2 linked regions of the Homo sapiens genome follow. The protein of the gene in region 1 purifies or fractionates together with the protein of each later gene. This does not show direct contact. Each region holds a gene or a part of one and is shown in the gene's direction. Other genes may lie near its edges.

Region 1 (16,253 bases):
CGGGGTTTCTCCATGTTGGTCAGGCTGGTCTTGAACTCCTGACCTAGTGATCCGCCCGCCTCCACCTCCCAAAGTGCTGGGATTACAGTCGTGAACCACCACACCCCGCCAGAGGTGGGACCTTTAAGAGGTGATTAGGTCTTGAGGGCTTCACCCTCATGAAGGGATTAATGCCATTATTTCGGGAATTGATTCCTTATAAAAGGATGAGTTTGGCCCCTTTCCGTCCAGCCACATAATGCCTGCTGGCATGTTATGTGGCAGCAGGAAGGTCCTCATGAGATGTGGCCCCTCCCTCTTGGACCTCCAAATCTCCAGAACCAATAAATCCCAGTTTATTATCAATTACCCAGTCTGTGGCATTATAGCAGCACAAAACGAACTAAGACACTGTAGGGTCCAGCCCTATGGGGCTAAGCGGGTGTTGTCCCCATGTGCAGAGACGAGAGATTGTAGTAAATAAAGACACAAGACAAAGAGATAAAGAGAAAACAGCTGGGCCCGGGGGACCACTACCATCAAGACGCAGAGACCGGTAGTGGCCCCGAATGGCTGGGCGCGCTGATATTTATTGCATACAAGACAAGGGGGGCAGGGTAAGGAGGGTGAATCTTCTAAGTGATTGACAAGGTGAAGCAAGTCACATGATCATAGGACAGGGGGCCCTTCCCTCTTAGGTAGCCGAAGCAGAGAGAGAAGGCAGCAAACGTCAGCGTTTTCTTGTATGCACTTACAAGAAAGATCAAAGACTTTAAGACTTTCACTATTTCTTCTACTGCTATCTACTACAAACTTCAAAGAGGAACTAGGAGTACAGGAGGAGCATGAAAGTGGACAAGGAGCGTGAACATTGAAGCACCACAGGGAGGGGTTTAGGCCTCCGGATGATTGCGGCCAGGCCTGGATAATATCCAGCCTTCCACAAGAAGCTGGTGGAGCAGAGTGTTCCCTGACTCCTCCAAGGAAAGGAGACTCCCTTTCGCAGTCTACTAAGCAACGGGTGACTTCCCAGACACTGGCGTTAGGGCTTGACCAAGGAGCCCTCAAGCAGCCCTTATGCGGGCGTGACAGAGGGCTCACCTCTTGCCTTCTAGGTCACTTCTCACCATGTCCGTTCAGCACCCGACCCTATATCCGCCGGTTATTCCTACGTTTTGTTAGTAATGCAACAAAGAGTAATGGTAAAAGCTAATGATTAATAATGCTTATAATAATGATTGATAATTGTCCATGGTCATCCCTATATCTAATTTGTATTATGACTATTCTTATTCTAAATATTTTCTTTATTATACTGAAACAGTTTCTGCCTTCAGTCTCTTGCCTCGGCACCTAGGTAATCCTCCGCCCACAAGACACCATGCAAATACCTACGTTGCCATGAAAACTGAGGAGGCTCAGTAAGAGCCTCTGAGAATCAAGGGCAGGAGGTGAAAGGACAAATCTCTGGGGAATCTCCAAAATCATGTATTTATTTTATTTAGAGACAGAGTCTCGCTCTGTTACCCAGGCTGAAGTCCGGTGGTACAATCAAGGCTCACTGCAGCCTAGACCTCTTGGGCTCAAGTGATCCTCCTGCCTCAGCCTCCCGAGTAAGTGGGACTGTAGGCTCTCACCACCATGCCCAGCCAATTTTTAATTTTTTGGTAGATATGGGATGTCACTATGTTGCCCAGGCTCAAGTTTTTTTTTTTTGAGACAGAGTCTTGCTCTGTCATAGCCTAGGCTGGAGTGCAGTGGTGCAATCTCAGCTCACTACAACCTCCACCTCCCGGGTTCAAGCGATTCTTCTGCCTCAGCCTCCCGAGTAGCTGGGATTACAGGCGTGCGCCACCACGCCCGGCTAATTTTTGTATTTTTAGTAGAGACGGGGTTTCACCATGTTGGCCAAGCTGGTCTCGAACTCCTTAACTCAGGTGATCCGCCCACCTCAGCCTCCCACAGTGCTGAGATGACAGGTGTGAGCCACCGCACCCGGCTAAGGGTTTCAGTTTCTATCAAGATGTTTTGTCATATCTAAAACCATCTTGGGCCGGGCGCCATGGCTCACACCTGTCATCTCAGCACTGTGGGAGGCCGAGGTGGGCGGATCACCTGAGGTCAGGAGTTCGAGACCAGCCTGGCCAACATGGTGAAATCCCGTCTCTACTAAAAATACAAAAATTAGCTGGGTGTGGTGGTGGGCACCTGTAATCCCGGCTACTCGGGAGGCTGAGGCAGGAGAATCGCTTGAACCCGGGAGGCGGAGGTTGCAGTGAGCTGAGATCGTGCCATTGCACTCCAGCCTGGTGACAGAGCGAGACTCAGTCTCCAAAAATAAAAAAAGATCATTTGAGTCCTCGACCTCACTTGAGCCTCAGGCCTGGGCAAAAGAACGAGACTCTACCTCTAAAAGACAAACAAGACCGGGCGCAGTGTCTCACGCCTGTAATCCCAGAACTTTGGGAGGCCGAGGCGGGCGGATCACAAGGTCAGGAGATCGAGACCATCCTGGCTAACACAGTTAAACCCCATCTCTACTAAAAATACAAAAAAATAGCCGGGCGTGGTGGCGGGCGCCTGTAGTCCCAGCTACTCGGGAGGCTGATGCAGGAGAATGGCGTGAACCCAGGAGGCAGAGCTTGCAGTGAGCCAAGATAGCGCCACTGCACTCCGGCCTGGGCGAAAGAGCGAGACTCCTTCCCAAAAAAAAAAAATCAAGGGGTGCAACTGTTCCTTAACCCCGTAGTCACCTGCACCCATCTAGGGACTAAGCTGGGCGGAGAACTACAGAACTGAAGGATGGGAAGGCTCTTAGGTCAGCTGCTCAATCACAGCCAGCGAGGCTTGTCCCCACACACAGAGGATCAGCATCACATGGGATGACCACATACCTGGGACAGGCGGCTGCACGTGGTGGCCACGGCCTGGCTGGCCCTTCACTGCTGGTTTTTTTCTTTTTTTGAGATGCAGTTTCGCTCTTGTTGCCCAGGCTGGAGTGCAATGGCGCGATCTCGGCTCACTGCAACCTCTGCCTCCCAGGTTCAAGCAATTCTGCCTCAGCCTCCCGAGTAGCTGGGATTACAGACACCTGCTACCACGCCTGGCATATTTTTGTATTTTTAGTAGAGACGGGGTTTTGCCATGTTTGCCAGGCTGGTCTCGAACTCCTGACCTCAGGTGGTCCACCCGCCTCGGCCTCCCAAAGTGCTGGGATTACATGCATGAGCTACTGCACTTGGCCCCTTCTCTGCTGGTGAGGAGCCCAGGAAACCTTTCCTTGTGGAGGGACAAGGAACAGTGAGTTGCAGGCTTTGCTCCTACTCAGGGGACCACCCTCTGGGGACAGTGGGGGACGTCAGGTCCGGCTCCATTCCTGCCTTCCGGTGGAGGGTGGAGTCTCCTCCAAATTCCTCTTGGGCAGGGTTTCGCGCTTCAGAGCCTCTGGCCACTTGCTGTGCAGCTGGTGGTGGTGGGCATCCTCGCCCCAGCAGGCCCTGCGTGGTGGGCTATCCTGCCTCCCAGGGGCCCAGCTTTGGCCCTGGACTCAGCCCCGGGAAACTGTAAGTGAGCAGTGCTCAAGGCCTCGGCCCTGAGGCACCTTTCTGCCATTATGATTCTGACCCCTGCCCCAGTTCCTACTGGGATGGGCAGGAAGCTCACAGAGACTTCAAAAGGCAGCGGATTCCTCACTCAGGCTTGTGCACCTTGCTCCTCTGCGGCCTGGGGGAGTGTGGCTCATGTGTGGCACAGAGCAGAGCCTCCATGGATGCCTTTGATCGCTGGCCTATGGGAGGGAAGATAGAAGAAGCTGGGAGGTGGCTCCACCAAGCCTGCAGCCCAGGGTGGACAGGAGAGGGCAGGCCCCAAGCACCGGTGCTGATGGGGGTGGTGGCAAAGCGATGAGGGGAAGGGGGCAAGCATGAGACCAGGAGCCCTGTTGCCCACAGCCATGCCACCAAACCACCCACCTTGTCCCATCCTTGTCCTCATCCTCCCTCAGAAGCTTTCTTCTTTTACCAGGCGACTTCTGAAGCTCACACTCAACCTTCAGCCCCCACCCCCTAGAACCCTCAGTACCTGCAACCCCCAAAGGGAAGCAGCCGGGTCAGCTGGGCAGGGGCCCAGCCTCAGGCGGCAGCATCCTGGAAGGCTGGAGCTGGCAGTGGCCTCTGCCCTCAGAGTTGGGTGGTCCTGAGCCCCCCTGGGAGCTGGCCTGCCCCCTGATGTTTGATGGGGCCCAGACTAGAGGCTTTCCGGGTCACAGGGGCTCCTTCCTCCTCTGATGGTCCTGCCAAGACAGGAGGGAGCAGAAGTGGGGAGGAAGACCAGGCCTTCAAAGGCCCGTGTGCAGGCCAACTCAAGGACAATGAGAAAGGGCCTCCGCAGAGCGGAACCGTCGCAGACAGAGCTTGGGCAGCAGGAACAGACCCACCATCCCCAGTGCCTGCACGCTCCCTGTAGCTGCAGGGGCCCTTCTGCAGAAGTGGGGCCTCTTGCCTGGGAGAATGGGCCTTGCTGCCAGGCCCGTCATACTGATCACAGTTCGGTGTCCTGCCTCCCTGGGGTGGCGGCCCACGAGGTGAAGAAAGCCAGGCTCCTACCTTGGCGTGGTCTCTCCCAGCACTTTCTTCCAGATCCTTGCTCCCAGGCTCAGGGGCTCCTCTCAGTTAGTTCCTTTGCAGCTCCAGCTCTTTTTGTGGGAGCCCAAGAACCACCCAGCCCAGGATAGACCATGGTCAGTGCTGAGGTCCTGCTCCCTGCAGATGCCAACACATACAGGCCCAGGCTGCTCAGGGCTAGGGGCAGTGTGCCAGCAGCCCAGGGAGAAGACAGCTGTAGCCAAGTCTGCCTGAAGAAACAGTTTGGGGCCTTTGGGGGTCTGATTGCAGGAGGAGCTGTCACTGAGAGGGTGGAGGCTCAGGGGAGTGGGGTAATGCTCAGGCCAAACGGTCCCGATGGGCTAAAACCTTAAACTCTGTCTCTTCTGAGTCCCCCTCACTGAGTACCCCGGTGCCTGCACACCAACCCCCTGGTGTAAATCCCTAGCAGGATACTCCTGGGAAGCTAGCAGGCAAACAGTCACTCCAGGGCTAAGGGTGGACAGGGGGCTCGGCACATCGCAGCCCCATCCGACTAACCCTCAGCCCTTGAGAGGTGCTCGTGGAGCAGTGGCCTTGCCGGGAAGAGGCTCCTCTACTCCTCTGACCACCGAAGCTGGTAGCTCGTGTGGGCCCAGAGAGCCCAGGGCAGTTCCAAGAAGCAATGTGGGGTAGTCTGGGCTCAGAGGGCATGACTGTACAATCCGTGAGACCAGCCTGTGGTGGGTAAGGACCTGCCCAGGGCCTGGGGAGAGGCAGCCTGTTAAACAGGCCAGGCCATGGCTCTAGTTCAGGGAAGCATCCACACAGAGAGATGTGCTCAAAGAATTAATGCCAACTCATTAAATACAAATGTTTTATTACGCAAACCACATGTAGGTCCCAGGCTCAGGGGCTTACCCTACAGCCCCCACTGGTCCCTGGCTCCAAGCCTGCTCCTTGCCCTTGCCCACCCTGGAAAGCCAGGATCTCCTATGGAGTGTGTAGGTGTCCACGAGTGTACCGGTGTGCGGGCCTCCTGGGCTGCAGGCACTCAGGCATGGTGGCAGCATTGAGGGAAAGACAGGTGTTGGGGAGCGGGGTCCCCACCTGCCCAGGCTCAGGAGTCACAGGGGTCTGCACAGTCCTTTCTGCTGTGGAACACGTGATAGATGCTGGTCGGGGGGAACATAGCAACAGCGCCGAGCAGAGAGCCCACCTGGATGGCCACGCCGGCTGCCAGCAATGCCGGCCGGCCCCCGCCATGCAGCAGGGAGCTGGCTGCCACCTTCACGTAGGAGAACACGCCAAGACACAGCACCCACGACAGCACCTGAGGGGGACACAGCACCAGCTGAGCGTGAGATGTGCCTGCTCCAGGGCAACGCCCCCCCACCCCACTTCATGTCCCCCTGTGCTCACCACGAGGACCACCCCCGCCGAGGTGCCCACCAGGGGCGGGCAGGGGCTCAGGACTGCCAGCGCCATCAGGTAGCCCCCACAGAACACGCCCAGCAGAGAGAGGCCGCCCAGCCCTGCCAAGGACCTGCAGTGAGCGAGCAGAATGTCAGGGCTGACTGCGCCAGGACCTGGCTCCTAGCCCTGAGTTCCACCCGCACAGGGGCTGGGGGTCCTTGTGTACCTGCACAGCACACCCATGGCCAGGAAGCAGGCCAGGGGATTGGCAGCACTGCCCAGCACCACAGCCAGGTGGTAGGCCAGACGCCCGTAGGGTAAGCAGGAAAAGCTCTGCACGGCAGGCAGCACGCCATTGGTCAGCGCGTTGGTGGCGGCCAACAGGCCCAGCAGGCAGGCACTGCGGGCTGATAGAAGCTGATAGGCCTTAGGGTCTGGACCAGGGGTGGTGCCTGCTGCCTGGCTTGGTGGCTCTTGCAGTGGTGAGGACTCTTCCACCTCTTCCTCTGCTCCTGGGGCTCCCACCTGGAGGCCTGATCCTAACTCCCCTGTGGGTACAGATGGTGGTGGCGGCAACAGCAGCAGAAGACCCTGGAAGGCAGCAGCTGAAGCGACCAGAAGGGCAGTCAGTGCCCAGAAGAAGGTGCTGGCGGGAAAACGCTCAAGGAAGTCGAGCGGGGGGCCAGGGGTGCCGTTGATGGGGGCTGGCGGGCACTCGAGGCGGCCCACACCCTGCACTAGGGCCAGCACGCAGGGCAGCAGGGCACTCAGGCCTTGACCCAGGAAGAATGACCGTAAGAAGCGAGGTGGCAGGTGGCTCAAGAAGGGCAGGAAAGTGACATTCGAGGCACAGCATGCCAGTGCCAGCACAAAGGCCAGTGCTAAGAAGGCCACAGAATGCAACTGTCCTGCCACTGGGGCCACATGGTGCCACAGAGAGGCCAGCAGGGCTGTGCCCACCATGCCCAGCACCTGCACCACCCGGATGGGGACCTGCTCGTCCTTTCCTGGGGCCAGCCTCCTCCAGAGGGTCACCACCAGCAGACCCAGGTTCCCCAGAGCCACAAGCACAGAGACGTAAGAGGGGAGGCTCCAACCTGCAGGGAAGGGAGGAGGCCATGTCAGGGTCATGATGCCCAAGGGAGGAAGAGTGCCAAAGCCCACCTTCCTGGGCACACCTGCACCTCCTCCCACTCACCCTCTGGAAGCTCTCTGACCACCACAGGTAGCTCCACCCAGATCCCACTGACCGCAGCCCAGGAGTCTTGGGCACACCTGCACCTCCCTCCCACTCACCCTCTGGAAGCTCTTTGACCACCACAGGTAGCTCCACCCAGATCCCATTGACCGCAGCCCAGGAGCCCATGCCGAAGAGAGCCACCAGCAGGTGGGTCAGCACCGGACGGGCGGGCGTGGGTGCTGCCATTCAGCCCAAGGCTGGGCCCTTCCAGGTCAGGGCAAAGGTCACAGCCAGTTCTTTTCCCACCTAGGGCCAGACACGCTTTGGCTCTCCTGGGAAGTGAAGACTTCTTCTAGCTTGAAAGAAACAGAGAAACAGATAGGATGCAGAGCCGGAGTCAGAACAGGGTGAGACCAGGGGAACTGGGGGAGCCCCGGGCAGGAGCGCAGATGGGGAGGATTGGCTAAAACGTACCCAGCGGGACCGCCGGCAGGCAGGGAAGCAGGAAGCCGGCCCGAGTCGCTGCGGCCCCAGGGGAGGAGGCCGAAGGAGCGAGTGGAGCCCTCCTCTCCAGGGAGAGGCGGGGCTGGAGTCAACGCCACCACCACCCCAAGCCGGACGCCGGGAAAGGGCGCCTACCAGGAGGAGCCACGCACACCCCAGGGCTTCACGGTGCCCGCGACCGCAAGAGCCAAGTCAGATCCCAGGGGAGTGGCCGGGACGGCTCTGCTCGGAGGGGCGCCGCCCTCTCGGTACCGTCAGGTGGGCGACTCGGGAGCCGTCCGGTCCCTGCGCCTCCCGGTCCCGCGCCCAGTGCGCTCCCGCTCCAGTGCCGGCTTCCCGCCACGCCGGGACACCGCCGTCCGGCCCAGGGACGCCACCTCAGTCCGGAGCGCGCAGGACCCGGCAGCAGCCACGACCCGACTCACCCGTGGCGGTTCCGGGCCCGCCCCCGGCATGGCCCACGACCGGAAGTCCCGCCCCGGAAGCTGGTCGGCGGGCGGGCGGGCGTTGAGAGGAACCGGGGGGTTGTCGGTCTATAAGCCTCGCCCGTTCCGCTCCCTGGGGCTTCCCCGAGCGCCGTCGGTGGTCATGGCTGCCCCAGCCTCCCGGCAGGTCCGACGCAGAGCCCGGGCAGCGCCGCGGCCCCGCTCGGCCGAGGACTGGTGGTGGGACCGGCTGGCGCCGAGGGGCTCGGGGTACCACCTGCTGCAGTCCGACAGCATGCTGCTGGTGCTGTCCGAACCCGGCCCCGCCCGGCCCCGCGCACAGCGGCGCGCTTCCCGCCGCACTCCCCGGCAGCCGCCCCGGGGCCCCAGCGCCGCGGCCAAGCCCAAGGCCGGGCTCAGGTCCGAGGCGGCGGCCGCGCCCGCACCCGCACCGGCACCCACGCCCACGCCCGAGGAAGGGCCCGACGCGGGCTGGGGAGACCGCATTCCCTTGGAAATCCTGGTGCAGATTTTCGGGTTGTTGGTGGCGGCGGACGGCCCCATGCCCTTCCTGGGCAGGTAACGCTGGTGCCGGGCCCGCCGCCGAGCGTAGCGGCTTGGGCCAGACGTGGTCCGAGCGGTGGCCCGGGCGGGGGCGGAGGGCGAAAGCATCGGAGCGCGCACCGCTCAGTCCGAGAGCGCAGCCCCTTAGGCGCCCAGTTGGAGTCCCAGGAGCCCGGCTTTGAGCCGGGGTGTCTACTGCGCTGCGAGAGGGGGGCATCGCCTACGGAGGGGCCGGCACCCTCAGCACGCTGTCCTCCCAGGGCTGCGCGCGTGTGCCGCCGCTGGCAGGAGGCCGCTTCCCAACCCGCGCTCTGGCACACCGTGACCCTGTCGTCCCCGCTGGTCGGCCGGCCTGCCAAGGGCGGGGTCAAGGCGGAGAAGAAGCTCCTTGCTTCCCTGGAGTGGCTTATGCCCAATCGGTGAGGGGTTCCCTCTCTTCCTTACCCCTGGCTCCAGGCTCCTTCCGTCTCCCTGCACCAAGGTGTTGGGTGGGAAGGACTCGTGTGGGAACATTAGTGCAGCTCTGCCTCCGCTGTCGGCCCAGGTTTTCACAGCTCCAGAGGCTGACCCTCATCCACTGGAAGTCTCAGGTACACCCCGTGTTGAAGGTGAGAGCTCCAGGCTGTCCTGCACATCAGCTGTGACACTCTGGGACTGTTCAGTACTCTAGGAAGTGGGTCAGGCACCTTGGGGGCCCAACGCTGCTCCGTGGGGATGTCTGCCTGCCTGCCTGGTTCTCTTTTCCTGCTGTTTCCTCCAGCAGGGAGGTATCAGAGGCGGGGACACCCAAGTAGGCCTGGCATGGGCAGAAAGGAGGTCACAGCTAAGGCGGTAGAGTGGGGTTGGCACCAGCCACTTGTCTGTTTCCCTTGTGGATCTTAGCCTGTCGTCTCCCAACCCCAGCTGCCCCTCTGTCTCCCCGCAGCTGGTAGGTGAGTGCTGTCCTCGGCTCACTTTCCTCAAGCTCTCCGGCTGCCACGGTGTGACTGCTGACGCTCTGGTCATGCTAGCCAAAGCCTGCTGCCAGCTCCATAGCCTGGACCTACAGCACTCCATGGTGAGCCCTGTGTCCCAAGGGGCCCTGAAAAAACCCAGGCCGGGGTGACGGGTGCTCTTGTATTGGGGCCCCAGGTGGAGTCCACAGCTGTGGTGAGCTTCTTGGAGGAGGCAGGGTCCCGAATGCGCAAGTTGTGGCTGACCTACAGCTCCCAGACGACAGCCATCCTGGGCGCACTGCTGGTAAGTTGGCATTGGTGGGAGCAGAGGCAGATGCTGAGCTGGGGACTGCCAGGCCACTGACCCTGTGACCTACCCCCTCCCCCCATCTCTGCAGGGCAGCTGCTGCCCCCAGCTCCAGGTCCTGGAGGTGAGCACCGGCATCAACCGTAATAGCATTCCCCTTCAGCTGCCTGTCGAGGCTCTGCAGAAAGGCTGCCCTCAGCTCCAGGTACCTGGCGCCCTGCCTCTCCCACCTGTCACACCCTCCCCCATCTACAGCCTGGACCTTGCCCCCAGGTGCTGCGGCTGTTGAACCTGATGTGGCTGCCCAAGCCTCCGGGACGAGGGGTGGCTCCCGGACCAGGCTTCCCTAGCCTAGAGGAGCTCTGCCTGGCGAGCTCAACCTGCAACTTTGTGAGCAACGAGGTCCTGGGCCGCCTACTCCACGGCTCTCCCAACCTGCGCTTACTGGATCTTCGTGGCTGTGCGCGCATCACGCCGGCTGGCCTTCAGGATCTGCCATGTCGGGGTCAGCAGTCCTGGGTGGTGGCCGGGCGGGTGAGGTGTGGGGGCCCTTGTCACCTTGTAGCTTATGCTCACTCCTTTCACTGCAGAGCTGGAGCAGCTTCATCTGGGCCTGTATGGCACGTCAGACCGGCTGACTCTAGCCAAGGAGGGCAGCCCCTTTTTGACCCAGAAGTGGTGCCATACACTGCGAGAACTGGACTTGAGTGGCCAGGGGTTCAGTGAGAAGGACCTGGAGCAGGCCCTGGCTGCCTTCTTAAGCACCCCTGGGGGCTCACACCCAGCCCTGTGCTCTCTTAACCTCAGGGGCACCCGGGTCACACCAAGCACTGTCAGGTCAGCATCCCCTACCCCAGTCCCTGGAGCCAGTGTGGCTGTCACTGTGTCTGCCTGGGGCCTGGAAGTTGTGTCCTGCCTGGCCTGAGACCTCCAGGGGTCAGAGGGGCATGCATACTGTCCAAGCCCCTGCGTGGGGTGGGCCTGAGGACACCAGGGGAACTGGGCTTGGCCTTGGTGGCTATGGGTGGCAGAGCCAGGTGTCGAACACCAGCAGGCACAGCTCCCTAGCCTGGCCCAGCCCTTCTGAGGCAACAGCTCAACTTCCTGTGGTCTGCCCTCCCCACAGCTCTGTGATCAGCGGCTGCCCGGGCCTGCTCTACCTCAACCTGGAGTCCTGCCGCTGCCTTCCCCGGGGTCTGAAGCGGGCCTACCGGGGCCTGGAGGAAGTCCAGTGGTGTCTGGAGCAGCTGCTCACCAGCCCCTCACCCAGCTAGGCAGCCACAGACCTGGGACACCTCAGCCAGCTTGCCCACCCTCCACCTTTGCCCAATTTCAGATATTTGAGCATTTTGTTAAAATAAAACATTTTTAGGAGTTCTGTGTGTGTGGTCCTCAGGGTAGGGTTGGGCAACAGGTTATACCTGATGGAGCCACTGGGGCTACAGCCGGCCCAGAGCCTGTGTGTTGTGGGGTCAGGGTGGTCCCATGGGCTCTTGAGCCTGCAGGTGGCCATGCCTTTGCCTGCCCACTGCTGGGTCCAGTGTGTGTGTTCCGTCCTCGGGGACACTGGTGAGCTTGTCTGTGGTTGCATGTGGGTGGGGGGTGGGAGGGGGTGGGGCCCCGCCCAGCTGTGGGGCTCACTGAGTGGTCGCCGCCTGCAAATTTCTCTCCAGCTCAGGCCTAGGGTGTCCACCCATCCACCCTTCACATGGGGACTGTGAACAGGCCATACAGGGGGCCTCCAGTGGATGGACTGGCCAAGAAGTTAATGCCTACCGCAGGACCTCACCCTGGACTCCCTAAGAGGTGGTCAACAGAGCAGCCCCTTCTAGAACCTGCCCAGAACTTCTAGAACCCATCCGCGGTCCACCCTGGGCCGCTCCCTGGCCTCGCTGCCCTGTCAGTCGCCTGTGAGCTCCTGCTCCTTCCTGGGCCTGCAGCCCTGGAGAATTTGCTCACCGAGGTAGGAGTGCCGCTGTGGGCAGTGGGCGGCGGCAGCGGACGAGCGGCCAGGCTGACCACCTCTGCCTGACTCAGATGCCTAAGGGCCGGGCCGGCAGCCTGCCCACGACCTCCATCGGCTGGCGCTTCCAGCTCTGGTTCCTAGGACTCACCTGCCCGGAGCGCCACCTGGCCAGACGCCTCAAGAACAATAGCTTCTACCCATTCGTGCAGCAGGAGCCAAACGGTGCGCGCGAGGCTGGGCGGGGCGGGGCGGGGCGGGGCTGGGAAGGGCGGGGCGGGGGAGGAGGGAGACGGGCCCGAGGCCTGAATGGGGCGGAGCCAGGTGGGCAGAGGCAGGGCCAGGGCCCTGGGTGGGGCCGGCCGGTGCTCCTGGGGACGGAGAGGCCGCAGGCGAGACGTCGCCTCCGCGAGCCCTGCGCGGACCCAGCTAGTCCGGGCCAAGCCTTGGCACCGCCACCCCCGGCTGCGGGCAGGGCCGGGGCGTCCTCACGCGCCGCGCCACCCCCAGTCTTCGTGCTCGAATACTACCTGGACACACTGTGGAAGGGGATGCTGCTCTTCATCATCAGCGTGGTCCTGGTCAGCTTCAGCTCCCTGAGAGAGGTGTGAGCCCCTGGGCCCGACCCCCACCGCCCTCCTCCCCTGAGGGCCGGCCCCGCGCCGCTCAGACTCTCCGCGTGGCGCCCGCAGGTGCAGAAGCAAGAGACCTGGGTCTTCCTCGTGTACGGCGTGGGCGTGGGCCTGTGGCTCGTGATCTCGTCGCTGCCGCGGCGCCGCCTGGTGCTGAACCACACGCGCGGCGTGTACCACTTCTCCATCCAGGGCCGCACCGTGTGCCAGGGCCCCTTGCATCTGGTCTACGTGCGCCTGGCGCTCAGCTCCGATGGTAACGGGCCGGGAGGGTGCGCCAGGGACGGGGAGGCAGCTTGGGAGGTCGGAGGGGCGGCCAGGCTGGCTAAGTCCGCTCTCCCCGCAGCCCACGGAAGGTGCTTCTTCCACCTGGTCCTCGGCGGCCACAGGTTGGAGCCCCTGGTGCTGGTGCAGCTGTCGGAGCACTACGAGGTGGGTCCCGCCCAGACACGCGCCCTCCTCAGGACACGATGACACCGATCACTGTTTAAGGTCTTTGGGTGGGGCCGTTTCCGCACGCAGAGGGTAAATACAACACGGTCTTCGGTGCTGGGGGCCGTGGAGAGGGCGCCGGGGCTTCGGGCAGGACGGGGGATGCAGCCTGGTAGGGGAAGGAGACGCCTGGACGGCGACTCGGGTCTGTCCTGTCCCGGCCCCAGTTGAGCGCCACCTGCTCCCACAGCAAATGGAATACTTGGGCCGTTACATCGCCCGGAAACTCAACATCAACTACTTCGACTACCTGGCCACCTCCTACCGGCACGTGGTTCGCCACTGGCCACCCCCTGGCGCTGGCACTGTGATGGGCAAGAGCCCCATGGGTCACAAGCCCAGCTCCTCTCAGTCCAGCCTGGAGGTGTGACTCTGAGGGCCTCCCCCACCTCGGGACTGTGTTCTCGGTAACCTCCCAGCCCCACTCTGGGGCAGATCAAATGTGAGTCCCACTCACTGGCCTTCCTTTCAATAAAGCTGCCTCAGCTTCCACACGGATCATTTTAGGGGGCAGGGGAGGCCCTCTGGTGCCTAGGTCTTCCACTGTTGCGCACTCCTAGGACCTCAGAGAGCCTGTGCCTTCCAGCTGACTGAAGCAAACCCCACAGCTTGTGTTCGAAGACAGGAACAGCTGAGAGCAAGGGATGGCATATAGCCAGGCCTCTGAGGTTCGGCCCATCACTAGAGAGGCTGGGAACTCCATCCCCTCTTAGCCAGCAGCACTTAACTTGTCCTACCTGACCTCAGAGGTGCTGACCAATGCGTGGAATCCAGGAGTCAGAATCTGGCCCATTCTGGACCCGGTGCCTGCTGCTACTCCAACCAGCAATGGGGTGGGGTGCGGCCAGAGAACAAGCCCTGTGCCTGGGGTGCATGCTTGCCCCAGTACCCACAAAGCTGCTGCCGCTTGCCTCCAAGGGGGTGGGCACAAGAGTCCCGGGCCAGGGTGCAGGGCCTCCTAGGAGGGAGGATGTGCAGTGCCCTGACACCCGCTCGCCATGCCCGCTGGAACCCCAGGCCCGCGCCCCTGACACCCGCTCACCGTGCCCACTGGAACCCCAGGCCTGCGCCCCTGACACCCACTTGCTGTGCCTGCTGGAACCCCAGGCCCACACTCTCCTGTCCAGTGGATCCCCCAGCTATCACTGCAGCACCTGAGGCCTCCTGAGTGCTGGGGGCTGTTGTGGAAGCCGAGAAGGCTGTGGGCCATGGGGTCCCAGGGAAAGCAGGACCTGGCTCTCCGGATCTTCAGGCATTATCAGCTGAACGTCCCTGCAACCAGGAGCAGCTACATAATTTGCAGGGTCCCATGCCAAATGAAAATTTGGAGCCCATTGTTAGGAAGTTAATAAGTGGGGTGCAGTGGTGTATACCTGTAGTCTCGGCTGCTCAGGAGGCTAAGGTGGGAGGACAGCTTAAACCCAGGAGTTCAAGGCTAGCCTGGACAACATAGTGAGACCCCAGTCTCTAATAAAATAAACAATAAAAATAAAAATAAAGTTATTAAGAATTTCAAGATAGACTGGGCATGGTGGCTCACGCCTGTCATCCCAGCACTTTGGGAGGCCAAGGCGGGCGGATCATCTGAGGTCAGGAGTTCAAGACCAGCCCGACCAACATGGTGAAACCCTGTCTCTACTAAAAATATAAAATTAGCTGGGTGTGGTGGTGCATCCCTGCAATCTCAGCTACTCGGGAGGCTGAAGGAATAGAATCGCTTGAACCTGGGAGGCAGAGGTTGCGGGTGAGCGGAGATTGAGCCATTGCACTCCAGCCTGGGTGACAGAGTGAGACTCTGTCCCAAAACGACAACGACAACAACAACAGCAACAAAAACTCAAGTATGGGGCCTTTCTGAGCCTGGGGCCCTGTGTGACTGCCCAGGTTGCAGGCTCGTGAAGCCAGTTCTGCCTGGAACCATGACTTAGAGTCTCTACTTGACCCCCAATCCCAAGGCTGCTCAAAACTCACTGGGCACACAGGCACCCTGGCCCATCTCTGGGGCAGGATCTGGGGGCTACTGAAGTGGCTTTAGGTAATCCCTGGAAGCAATTGTCATTAACAGCACAAGTGCAGGGACCTCCACTCCCCAGAAGATGGGGCTCAAGGTGTCCTACAGTGGCAGCACCAAACTTAGGTTTGGGTTGAGGGCTCTGTTTCACTCAGGCAGGCAAAGTCCCTCCTCCCTGGAGCTGGTGATCTAAGAGGGACCCAGAATGAAGAGTGGTTGGAGGGGCAGGGTCCCTCTGGCTGGGGAGCTTTGGGGGAAGGGCATCGTGGGCAAAGAGTAAACACAACACAAGGGCGTGATATAGGACTGAGCTGGGTGTGCTGGAGAAGCTGCAAGGGGATTGGGCTGGTCAGAGTAGAGAGGACAAGGGAGAAGGAGGCCTGAGATGAGGTGGGAAGGGCAGGCAGCGTCCTTGGAGGCCATAGCTCAGAGCTTTAGTCCTGTGTGCCATGGGAATCTGCTGGAGAGCTGTAAGCAGATATGCACTAAGACCCAGGGAGGGAGCGGTGGGGAAAGGCCAGGAGGCTGCAGGAATTGTGCACGGAGGAAAGGGAGCTGGAGGGGCAGAGGGGAACAGAGAGGAGCAAGGACCACAGACAGTTCTGAGCTCCGGCTCCGTGGAGGGGATTTGCTGCTGGGCGGGAAGTGGGCTGGGAAGAAAAGTGACTCGGGAGTCCAGAGTGTCTGGCCTGGGCACTGGGGCTGGTGGCTATGGGGAGAGGGGTTGGCAGTCAGGAGTTCTGAATTAGACAAGGCCTGAGGAGCTTACAGGACCTTGTGGGGGAGATTTTGAAAAGGCAGAAAGGCCCTGGGGAGAAAGGAAAGGGGGAAGCACAGACCTGAAACCATCATGCCCTGGGAGGTCCCTAAAGCTAAAGCACTAGATGAGATGTCTCTGGCAACGCAGAAGATGGGGGAGAACAGGAGGAGGGCCAAGGATGGAGCTCTGGCATCAGACACAGAGGCAGACAAGGGGCCACGGGGGAAGAGGACCCAAACAGAGGGAGAAGGAACCCATGTTGAGTAAGATGGGGACTCATAAGAGGCACGAACGCCCCTGCAGGAACAGCCTCAAGAAGGGGCCTCAGCAGCACAGAACTGGGGCAGGGAGGAGGGAGGGAGAGAGGGTGGAAAGAAGAGGAGAGTACAGCTCACACAGCAAGTTTCACTGTCATGGGCAGAGAAACCAGGGGGCAGCTTGCAAGAGGAAGGTCTTGCTTGTTGGTGTGCAGGTGTGCATGGCCTAATAGAGATTTTATTTATCT
Region 2 (10,428 bases), on another chromosome or scaffold:
GAAAAAGGGTTGCAATACTAACAATTAGAGAAACATTGGAAAATAAAAGTGATTACAAACTAGGCTTATAAAATATATCTGGACATATTTTGAATGCTGATGATTGAGAAAGAGCATGTTTAATTAAAGCAGATAGATGAAGATTTCTGTAGAGATTCTTAAGGGGATCCTTTACAAAAGCACTTGTGATCCTTGAGGTATCTCTATTTCAAAACTTTTTTTTAATTTTCATTCACTCCTTCAGCATATATTTATTGAGAGTAGTATCTACCATGTGTCAGGCACTGTTCTTGGCATTGGGAATACAAGGTAAGTATACATGCAGAATATATGGGAATATAGGGAGCTTATATTCTAGTGGAAGGAATGAGAAAGGAAAAAAAATGATATCAGGAACTGCTAAGTGCTTTTCCTTAATGGAGGTTTATCATCACCATTACCCTAAGACTAATATTAAGTAAGTTTATACTTATAACCTTACATGATCAAGGTTAAAATTTCTCTTTGTTCCTAAATGGAACTAAAGACAGGAGGGGGAAATCAATGGGCACAGACATTTCCTGAGGTTTCTAACAACAACTGCAAGATGGGAAAGAAATATGTGTGAGAAAAAGATTTGCTGACCTGTGATAGATGAGGAAAACAATGGGCGTGATATTTTTGAGAGGGAAGAGATGTTAAGTTGGGCATAAGTCACCAAGCCTTGCCATCAGTCATGGAGAGTTTTGGCATGGTTGCAAGTGATTTGGAGGGGGAGGTAGTCTGCATTGACGTCTTGAACATTGTTGTTCTTCTCTTTCCCTTCTCCCTTGTCCCTCCCTCCCTTCCTTCTTCCTTCTGCCCTTTCCTTCCTTTAATCCTCTTCCCTTCCCTCCCCACTTCCCTCCCTCCCACTCTTCTTTTCTCCTTCCTTCCTTCCTTGAAGCAAACATGTACTGATAATTGCCAGACTGTTATACCAAGCATTAATTCCTGGCCCTCGAGGAGCATATAGCCTAGAACCGTGTTCTCAACTCTGGGATTAGTTATATCCAGGCATGGTAATTTTAACTGTTCAACAACCTGCGTAGCACAAGCCAACCAATAAGAATGTATGTCAGTCAAAATTTGAGTATGGAATCCTGGAAGCCCCTCAATGTGCCAGTAGTTAACCTTGTAGTTGCGGGATAGTGGAGAGGTAGAAGGTCCTAACGGAGGTGTTGTAGTAGCCAGGACAATGGGTGGGCAAGAAGACTACTCAGTGGGGAACAGTTTCAGGGCAGTAGCTATTTACTAAGTGGTAGAAAAGTATTCGTTATTTTACCAATGACTATCATTTAACAATGATATGCCTGTATGGATGAATACCAACTAAATCCTTAGCTCCACCTACATCCAATGCTTAAAGAGATTAGGCGGTGGGATTATGTGATGGAGGAAACCTTTTTCTGGGTCTTGATCTTATTCTTGAGAAAGATGATTGGCATCAGTTGGTGATGAGGAAAAAGAGGGAAACAGCTTAAGTAAAGATGGAAATTGAGAAATCGTATACAGAATGCCATTAAGAAACCAACCTGTGTGGAGGTGTGGGCAGCAAGAATGTACTGTAATAGAATGGGAGGCAAATTTGGAAGAAAAGGTTGTATACAGCAAGAGAGAAAAAGAGGTTGGTTGTTGTGTCAGTGGAGAACAGGGAAACATATTAGGGTTAGTTATTTAATTCTGATATAGCAGAGAAAGGGGGAGGGGGGCTTCTGTATGTCCTTGAGCAGGGAATTGTATGATGAAAGGAACATATGAAAGGAAATATTCTGCTGGCTATATGAAGAAGAGACTGAAGAATGCAGAAGCCAGTTTAAGAAGTTACTTAGGCAATTCTGGTAGGGTTAATTATGGCAGGGACAAGGATGGTGACTATGAAAGTGAAACAAAGTGTTCAATCTGACAGATATTGCAGGACCATGTGAGGAGTGGAGAGAGGGGAAACAACAAGAAACATAATACATATTATCCTAAATATGACAGCTGGCTTTCTAAATATCCAAAGAAAAATATAAGTCTATGATACTAACTCCTTTAAAATAATATATTTAACTATGTAATTATCCTACTTAATTTAAAAAATAAAGATTCTAACTTTTGAAGACAAGGCAGTATGAATTGATAGCCTTTTGACACTAAGAAAAATACTGCTATATGATATTAATACGGAAGAGCATAGCATTAAGCTAAATTTTCTATTATTGATTTATATTAGCATGGAGAACATGTATGATGTTAAATCATTAAAATTTATGTGAAACCTAGCAGACTTCATTGTTCTGATGTTTATCTTACTTAGTAAAAGTTATTTCCAAATGAAACTTTTATCTTTTGAAGGTGGGAAGAAATGCTTGATTTTTAACTAAGTTAACTTTAAGTTGACTCTTAAGATAACAGGAAAGCTTTAGGAGCCTAATTAAACCATGTATTTGCTCTAATTACTTTCGCTGGAGACTGCTAGGAAACAAAAGCAGCAAACAGACCTGTTCTGTGTGCAGCAGTCAGGCCTTTGATGGTTGTTTTCTCTAGCAGAGGTTTTGAGTAGCACAGAAGTAAAGAAGCTGAGAAGCAAAGCCATCATCTACAAACAGTGGCTGCAGCCACAAATCACAGGGCAGCCCTCATTCCTGCATAGTGTAGAAAGCATCTTTCATTGTACATGATTTATGTCCCAACACAGAGAAGCAATCGTCATCACTAACATCATTTTTTAATATCAAGGGTGGCATCACATTTTTATCAGCATAATTGGACGTTAGCTCATGAAGCTTTTAGAATTAATACTTAGAAGATAATTTATACGTGGGACAAGAATAATAGTTTTTTGATACTGGTTACTTTTCCTCTTAGGTTTTATTCTCTTGAATAATGTCGTCCATATTTAATACAACAGTTTAATTTTTAAACTAAATAAATCCACACTTGAATTACCCATTTCGATTTTAGTACAAGTTGAGTTTAGAATATTCATGATCATGTATGTAAGAAAAGAAGCAGATGAATTTTTGTTATCACTGACAAGTCAATTCAAACAATTGCTTTCTTAAAACAGGACTCACAGGAAATTCCTTTTAAAAGCACACATCATTAAAGGCATATTTCTTCATTAGTTGGAATTGGTTTTAAAGGTATTGTGGCTATTTATCCATTTACATTAGTTTATAGCCATAAAATGCCAGTTACAATGCTTGTGTTTTTTATCCCTTGAGTTGAATTGGCAAACTAAAACAAGAACTATCTTTTAAGTCTTATTATTTATTATCTGTTGTTTTAAAAATCTGTATTTCAGACCCTTTGTGCAGATTCCAAACTTTACAGTTGTAATAACTGAATATGCAAGGCAACTTTAGCCTTCTGGGATAAACTGTCCTAAAATAAAAACAAAAACGAAAAAAAATAAGAGACAGGAATCTATAACCAAGAGAGGGTAGAGCATTAAAGCCACCACTGAGTGAGTTCAAGCCAAATAAAAATTCTCTACATTTTGCCTAAACCATCTAGATATCTGTTTTACTTTGCCTATGAGAATCTGACCTAAACTAAATGACTATTCTATATCATTAAGTTGTCCAGGAAAATGAAAATTTAAATGTATGTCAGACAAGCTCTAGCATCTGGTACAATTCAGTAATGATGGTCTGCTCTACAGAGCTTCAGTGTTGAGACAACTTTAGGACTGAGAAGGTTTGGTTGACCTGTAGGAAGAAAATAATGTTCTAGTCAGACATTCTCCCAGTTTACAAGTACTCATGCTTGCCAGATTAGGAAAGATACAAAGTAAAATTCTTCTGTGAAGCATCTCACTATAGCTCTAATTCCACTTCGCTGCAGCCAAATAATATACCCTGGGTACAAAGTGATCAGCACTGTTCATCTTTCACTGTAATAGTTTAGAAATTATTTTCACACTTCTTTTTTTAACACATTGATTAATGCTAGATATTTCCCCTTAAAATAGAAAATGTCTCATAAAGTATTATTTCAGAGTGATAAATAAAATTTAACTAATTTAGATGCTCTCATAATTTGTTGACAAAAGAAGAAACCTATTTCTCCTTTTAAAAGAGCATATAAGCTGAAATATATGAGATCTTTTAAAAGAAGTTTAAAAGTGACCATGGTGACACTTGTATCAACAGCTCCCTTTCAAACTGTGCTACAAATCACATCATGCCCAATTTACATATCTTTCAAAATAGAAGAAAATCAAGTTAAATGTGATTTTTAAAGTCAACAGACTGGGGAAAAAAAACTTGCAACAAATACCACAAAGTTTTAATGTATTTATTACATAAACAAGTTACACATAAGAAGAAAATACTAAGAATACAATAGACAACACAAAGGACATAGGAAATAATATAATGTCAGTGAATATATATAAATGTTTAATCTCACTAGTTAAAAAAAAAAAGCACATTGAAAGAATAGTGGAGGCCAGGTGCAGTAGCTCAGGCCTGTAATCCCAGCACTTTGGGAGGCTGAGGCAGGTGGATCACAAGGTCAGGAGTTCGAGACTAGCCTGGCCAACATGGTGAAAACCCTTCTCTACTAAAAATACAAAAAATAGCTGGGCATGGTGGCGGGCACTTGTAATCCCAGCTACTTGGGAGGCTGAGGCAGGAGAATTGCTTGAACCCGGGAGACCGAGGTTGCAGGGAGCTGAGATCACGTCACTGCACTCCAGCCTCGGTGACAGGATGAGACTCCATCTCAAAAAAAAAAAAAAAAAGAATAGTGGAATACCGTTTCACCCATCTTATCTCTAATTTTTTAAAAATAAGAATGTCCAATGCTGACAATCAGTCTGGTGACAGGGTAAACTAATATAATATTTTTGAAAAATAATGTATTAAATATTCATATCTTTTAGCCTACTAATTCCAGTGCTCAGTTTTTACCCAATGGGAATTTTAAAAGGCTGTAGGTAGAAGATATTCATTGACATGTTATTTATAATACTGAAAAAAATGAAAACAACCTAAATGCCCCAAAGCAGATGATTAATTACATTAATATTCATCGATTGTGTTGGATAATATGTTGTATTTTAAATGATATTTATGCTGATGCATAATAATATGGGGAAATATTGTATAATGTTCAGTGAAAAGAACAGGATGCAAAATTATATAAATTGTAAGCCTACTGCTCTATGTAAAAACTATATGTACAGGAAAAAGGACATGAGGATTTAAAAATCTCCAGTATTTTCCCATTTCATTTAATATTCATTTTGATATTTTCAATGTCATGTTATTACTCAAAGCACTTTCAAATATGTTGCCTTATTTGTCACATTTCTCTTTAAAAAAAAAAAGAAAAAAACCTTGTGCTTGGAAAGACTTATAAAATATCCTAATGACTATCAAACAAAATCCCAAATGAGAGCATTTGTTATCATTTTGGTTGTAAGTGCAGGGAATCTTGTATATATGTGACTACGCAGCTGAAATATGTAGCAGTCACAGTCAGGGATCTCTCAGCATCCACACTCGTTCTGCCTCTAGCTCCCTTCCGAAACCACGGCTGCTTCCAGCACCTGTGAATATATTGCACTTATAAACCATTGGCAGCAGAGGGAATGTTATTGAATATTTGTAATATCTGGGGGACAACCCAAACCAATTTCTTTTTCTCTTAAATTATAGCATCAAAAAGGAGCCATTTATTCAAATACGTGTGTTCTGTTTCTAACAGAGCAAATTCTTAAGAGGGCAGAAATATGGTTTATTTTTATGATATACATATTGCCTAGTTTACTGTTGGATTTTATAAATAGTACCCTTTGCCATATCAACCCTAGAGCAAGGGTGAACTGACATTCCATTCTTTCAGAGAGAAATGCTGTATTTCTCTCCTCCTCTCCCTCCATTCCTCTTTGCAAACCTGGTCACTCCTTTGATAATTCACGACCCATCTCCACCATTAAGAGTCTAAAATCCTAGTCAAGTAATAACTGGGGTGGTGGGGGAGAGAGGGAGAGGGAGAGGGAAAGGGAGAAGGAGAGGGAGAGAGAGAGAGAGACTTGAGGAGGTTGCACTTACACTCCGGCAGTTTTTCCAGAAATGAGGGAGGCAGTAGTTCTTACTTTTGTGATGTCAACTTGTAGACTGAAATGCATCAAAGCTCCTCTTCTTCTTCTTGTTGACGCGAGGGATGTGAAATGTGCTCTAGAATATGCATTCAGCGTGGTCCTTTGTTCTAGGTATGAGCTTTTCTTTTTCTAAAGTTTTTCGGTCTCGCTCAAGGAAAGGAAAGCAATATTTTGAGATTCTTTTAAAGGCACCTTCCAAAGCATTTCCCACAGAAAAATACCTTCACAGCCCAACACTGGTTATTTCAGTAAGAATCGAGTCCAATTTTTTCCAATATGGCTGTATACATTGCAGGCCCCCAAATTTGTGCTTTCATAGTCATCGTTAATCAAATAGGCAGAAACACTGTATTTAGGGAACCTGTGTTTCGTGGGCTAGAAGTGCATTCTGATTAATAAAGATCATGTTCATTTTGAATGCATCGCTGTTATTCGTGTGCCTCAGAGTCGCGGGCTTCTGTCAGGGGTGCAGCGGGCTCGGGAGTGCCTGCAGAGCGGTGGGAAGCAGTTCTGAGCGCCCTGGTCGTCAACCCGTTTTCAGGGGGTGCCGACACTTTCTCCCAAGAAGCTCGATCCGCCGCCTTGTGCGGCTGGAAAGAATGAACCAGACTGTGACAGGAACAGAGAATTTATGTGATTGACAGGGAGTACCAGGGCACCCGACTCCATCCCGGGTCACCACGGCTCTGGGATTTGCACGAGTTTACCACCACCATTAACAGCTATTTGCGTAAGGTTGTTTACCGCCTGAGAGCGCCACAAGCCGACAGCGAAGCCACTTTGGGACCCCAGCCACGCCCCCTCTCCCCTCTCCCCTCTCACCCCTCCCTCCCGCCAAACTAATGATTTCGGGGCTGCCTTCTTGCCGGACCCTCCCATTGGCTCCTATCCCAACCAATCAGAGCCTTGCAACAGTTTCACCTGGCTCCCGCTTCCCAAATAAACAAACAAACTGTCCCGCGACTGTGCCCGCTCTGCACCCTGGCGCCGCAGGCAGGCACTGCTTGCGCTACGCCCCCTCCCACCACCTCCCACCAATGGGGCCCCGACTGTGGCGCCCTCTCCCGACCCTGATAGCCGGCCGCTTTCTCCTCCGCCCCTCCAGGCCTTCTCCCGCCCCCTCATGCCTTCCTGGACTCCCTGTTAGAATCAGCTTGGCCAGAGAGCCCGCCTCCTCCTCTCGGTCCTCCCTTGGCCCACAGGCCTGGAGATTGACCGGGAGGATTTGGCACAGCCGGAGGTGGCTCCGCCTCCCGAGCCCGCCGTCTCCTCCCTTGCTCACCTCTACTGGTGGCCGCTCGCGCCCCTCCATTGCGCCGGTAGCAGGATCCGCAGCGGCCGCCGCGTGAGGCTGTGGTCACGTGTTGTTTTGCCCGCTGTCGTGCGCTCAGAGTGGAGTGGGCGGGGGCGCGGGCCAAGGCAGGAGGGGGCTGGGGCGGGCAGACGAGGGTAGACAGCCTCTTCCCCCAACCCTCCCTTTCCTGAATTCCCCCTCCTCCTCGCTCACCTTAAAACCATCGTGCATCACCATGGCGAGTTGCTCCTTCACTCGCGACCAAGCGACAAGAAGACTAAGAGGTGCAGCAGCGGCGGCAGCGGCAGCTCTAGCAGCAGTGGTGACCACCCCGCTTCTTTCCTCGGGAACCCCGACCGCACTCATTGGGACCGGGTCGTCTTGTCCGGGAGCCATGTGGCTCTCCACGGCCACTGGCTCCCGGTCAGACTCCGAGTCCGAAGAGGAGGACCTGCCCGTCGGGGAGGAAGTCTGCAAACGCGGCTACCTGCGGAAACAGAAGCATGGGCACAGGCGCTACTTCGTGCTCAAACTCGAGACTGCTGACGCCCCAGCTCGGCTGGAATACTACGAAAATGCCAGGAAGTTCCGGCACAGTGTCCGCGCCGCGGCGGCTGCAGCAGCGGCGGCCGCCTCTGGCGCCGCGATCCCCCCGCTCATTCCACCGCGGCGCGTGATCACCCTATACCAGTGCTTTTCCGTGAGCCAGCGAGCAGATGCAAGGTACCGACACCTCATTGCTCTTTTCACCCAAGACGAATACTTCGCGATGGTGGCCGAGAACGAGTCGGAGCAGGAAAGCTGGTACTTGCTGCTCAGCCGCCTCATCCTCGAGAGCAAGCGCCGCCGCTGCGGCACGCTCGGCGCGCAGCCGGACGGAGAGCCGGCCGCGCTGGCGGCGGCAGCGGCGGCGGAGCCACCCTTCTATAAAGATGTGTGGCAGGTAATAGTCAAACCCAGGGGGCTGGGGCACAGAAAAGAGCTGAGCGGCGTGTTCCGGCTGTGTCTAACCGACGAGGAGGTCGTGTTTGTGAGGCTGAACACCGAAGTGGCCAGCGTGGTCGTCCAGCTCCTGAGCATCCGTCGCTGTGGACACTCGGAGCAGTATTTCTTCTTGGAAGTAGGCAGGTCCACTGTCATCGGTCCGGGAGAGCTCTGGATGCAGGTCGATGACTGTGTGGTTGCCCAAAACATGCATGAGCTGTTTTTGGAGAAGATGAGAGCCTTGTGTGCAGACGAATACAGAGCCCGCTGCCGCAGCTACAGCATCAGCATCGGCGCCCACCTGTTAACCCTGCTGTCCGCTAGGAGGCACCTGGGCTTGGTGCCGCTCGAGCCGGGAGGCTGGCTCAGAAGGTCCCGCTTTGAGCAGTTTTGCCACCTCAGGGCCATCGGCGACGGGGAAGACGAGATGCTTTTCACCAGGCGCTTCGTAACACCCAGCGAGCCTGTGGCCCACTCCAGGCGAGGAAGACTGCACCTGCCCAGAGGGCGCAGGTCAAGGAGAGCGGTTTCAGTGCCGGCCAGCTTTTTTCGCCGCTTAGCACCCAGCCCAGCACGTCCCCGGCACCCTGCAGAAGCCCCGAACAATGGAGCTCGCCTGTCTTCTGAAGTGTCTGGTTCTGGCTCTGGCAACTTTGGGGAGGAAGGCAATCCCCAGGGCAAAGAAGATCAGGAAGGAAGCGGAGGTGACTACATGCCTATGAACAATTGGGGCTCAGGAAATGGCCGGGGCTCAGGAGGTGGCCAGGGCTCAAATGGCCAAGGCTCCAGTAGCCATAGCTCGGGAGGAAACCAGTGTTCAGGCGAGGGACAGGGATCCCGAGGTGGTCAGGGCTCAAATGGCCAGGGCTCAGGAGGAAACCAGTGCTCTAGAGATGGCCAGGGCACCGCAGGTGGGCACGGTTCAGGTGGTGGCCAGAGACCTGGAGGTGGGCATGGCTCAGGTGGTGGCCAGGGACCTGGAGATGGCCATGGCTCAGGTGGTGGCAAGAACTCTGGGGGGGGCAAAGGCTCAGGAAGTGGGAAAGGATCCGATGGTGATGGTGAACGTGGAAAATCTCTGAAGAAAAGATCCTATTTTGGCAAATTAACTCAAAGCAAGCAACAGCAAATGCCACCACCTCCACCACCTCCTCCTCCACCCCCACCAGCTGGAGGAACTGGTGGAAAAGGGAAGTCTGGGGGAAGATTCAGACTTTATTTTTGTGTTGACAGAGGAGCCACGAAAGAATGCAAAGAAGCCAAAGAAGTGAAAGATGCAGAGATCCCAGAAGGTGCAGCTCGAGGTCCCCACAGAGCCAGAGCTTTTGATGAAGATGAGGATGACCCATACGTGCCAATGAGGCCAGGGGTGGCCACCCCTCTTGTAAGCTCCAGTGATTATATGCCAATGGCTCCTCAAAATGTCTCTGCTTCAAAAAAGCGCCACTCTCGATCCCCTTTTGAAGATTCAAGAGGGTACATGATGATGTTTCCCAGAGTGAGCCCACCACCTGCTCCGAGTCCTCCAAAAGCACCTGATACTAATAAAGAGGATGACTCAAAGGACAATGACAGTGAGAGTGACTACATGTTTATGGCTCCTGGAGCCGGTGCAATTCCAAAAAACCCCAGAAATCCTCAGGGTGGCTCTTCCTCCAAAAGTTGGAGCTCCTACTTCTCTCTACCAAACCCTTTTCGGAGCTCACCTTTGGGACAGAATGACAACAGTGAGTATGTGCCAATGTTACCTGGAAAGTTCCTGGGGAGGGGCCTAGACAAAGAAGTCTCCTATAACTGGGACCCCAAAGATGCAGCTTCAAAGCCTTCAGGTGAGGGATCATTCTCAAAGCCTGGAGATGGGGGATCACCTTCAAAGCCTTCAGATCATGAGCCCCCAAAGAATAAAGCTAAGAGACCTAACCGACTTTCTTTTATTACAAAAGGATATAAAATCAAGCCAAAACCACAAAAGCCCACACATGAGCAGAGAGAAGCTGACAGCTCTAGTGACTACGTCAACATGGACTTCACT

What was found.
Region 2: the proteins of FBXL6 (region 1) and IRS4 purify together in Homo sapiens (affinity purification with mass spectrometry, with the first as the bait; 2 studies listed by BioGRID). This does not show direct contact.

Annotation. Positions count from the first base shown.
Region 1 is NC_000008.11:144,350,442-144,366,694, reverse strand, and holds FBXL6 (F-box/LRR-repeat protein 6), read left to right. Parts: upstream 1-8,222; 5' UTR 8,223-8,247; coding exon 8,248-8,663; intron 8,664-8,908; coding exon 8,909-9,067; intron 9,068-9,192; coding exon 9,193-9,256; intron 9,257-9,573; coding exon 9,574-9,705; intron 9,706-9,779; coding exon 9,780-9,887; intron 9,888-9,981; coding exon 9,982-10,095; intron 10,096-10,163; coding exon 10,164-10,395; intron 10,396-10,480; coding exon 10,481-10,727; intron 10,728-11,016; coding exon 11,017-11,164; 3' UTR 11,165-11,264; downstream 11,265-16,253. Other genes in the region: SLC52A2 (solute carrier family 52, riboflavin transporter, member 2), read right to left, coding at 5,680-5,892, 5,982-6,105, 6,202-7,072, 7,272-7,401; CATSPERQ (cation channel sperm-associated auxiliary subunit TMEM249), read left to right, coding at 11,928-12,078, 12,364-12,458, 12,546-12,741, 12,832-12,917, 13,168-13,347.
Region 2 is NC_000023.11:108,733,564-108,743,991, reverse strand, and holds the start of IRS4 (insulin receptor substrate 4), read left to right. Parts: upstream 1-7,428; 5' UTR 7,429-7,647; coding exon 7,648-10,428. UniProt on the Homo sapiens protein: Acts as an interface between multiple growth factor receptors possessing tyrosine kinase activity, such as insulin receptor, IGF1R and FGFR1, and a complex network of intracellular signaling molecules containing SH2 domains.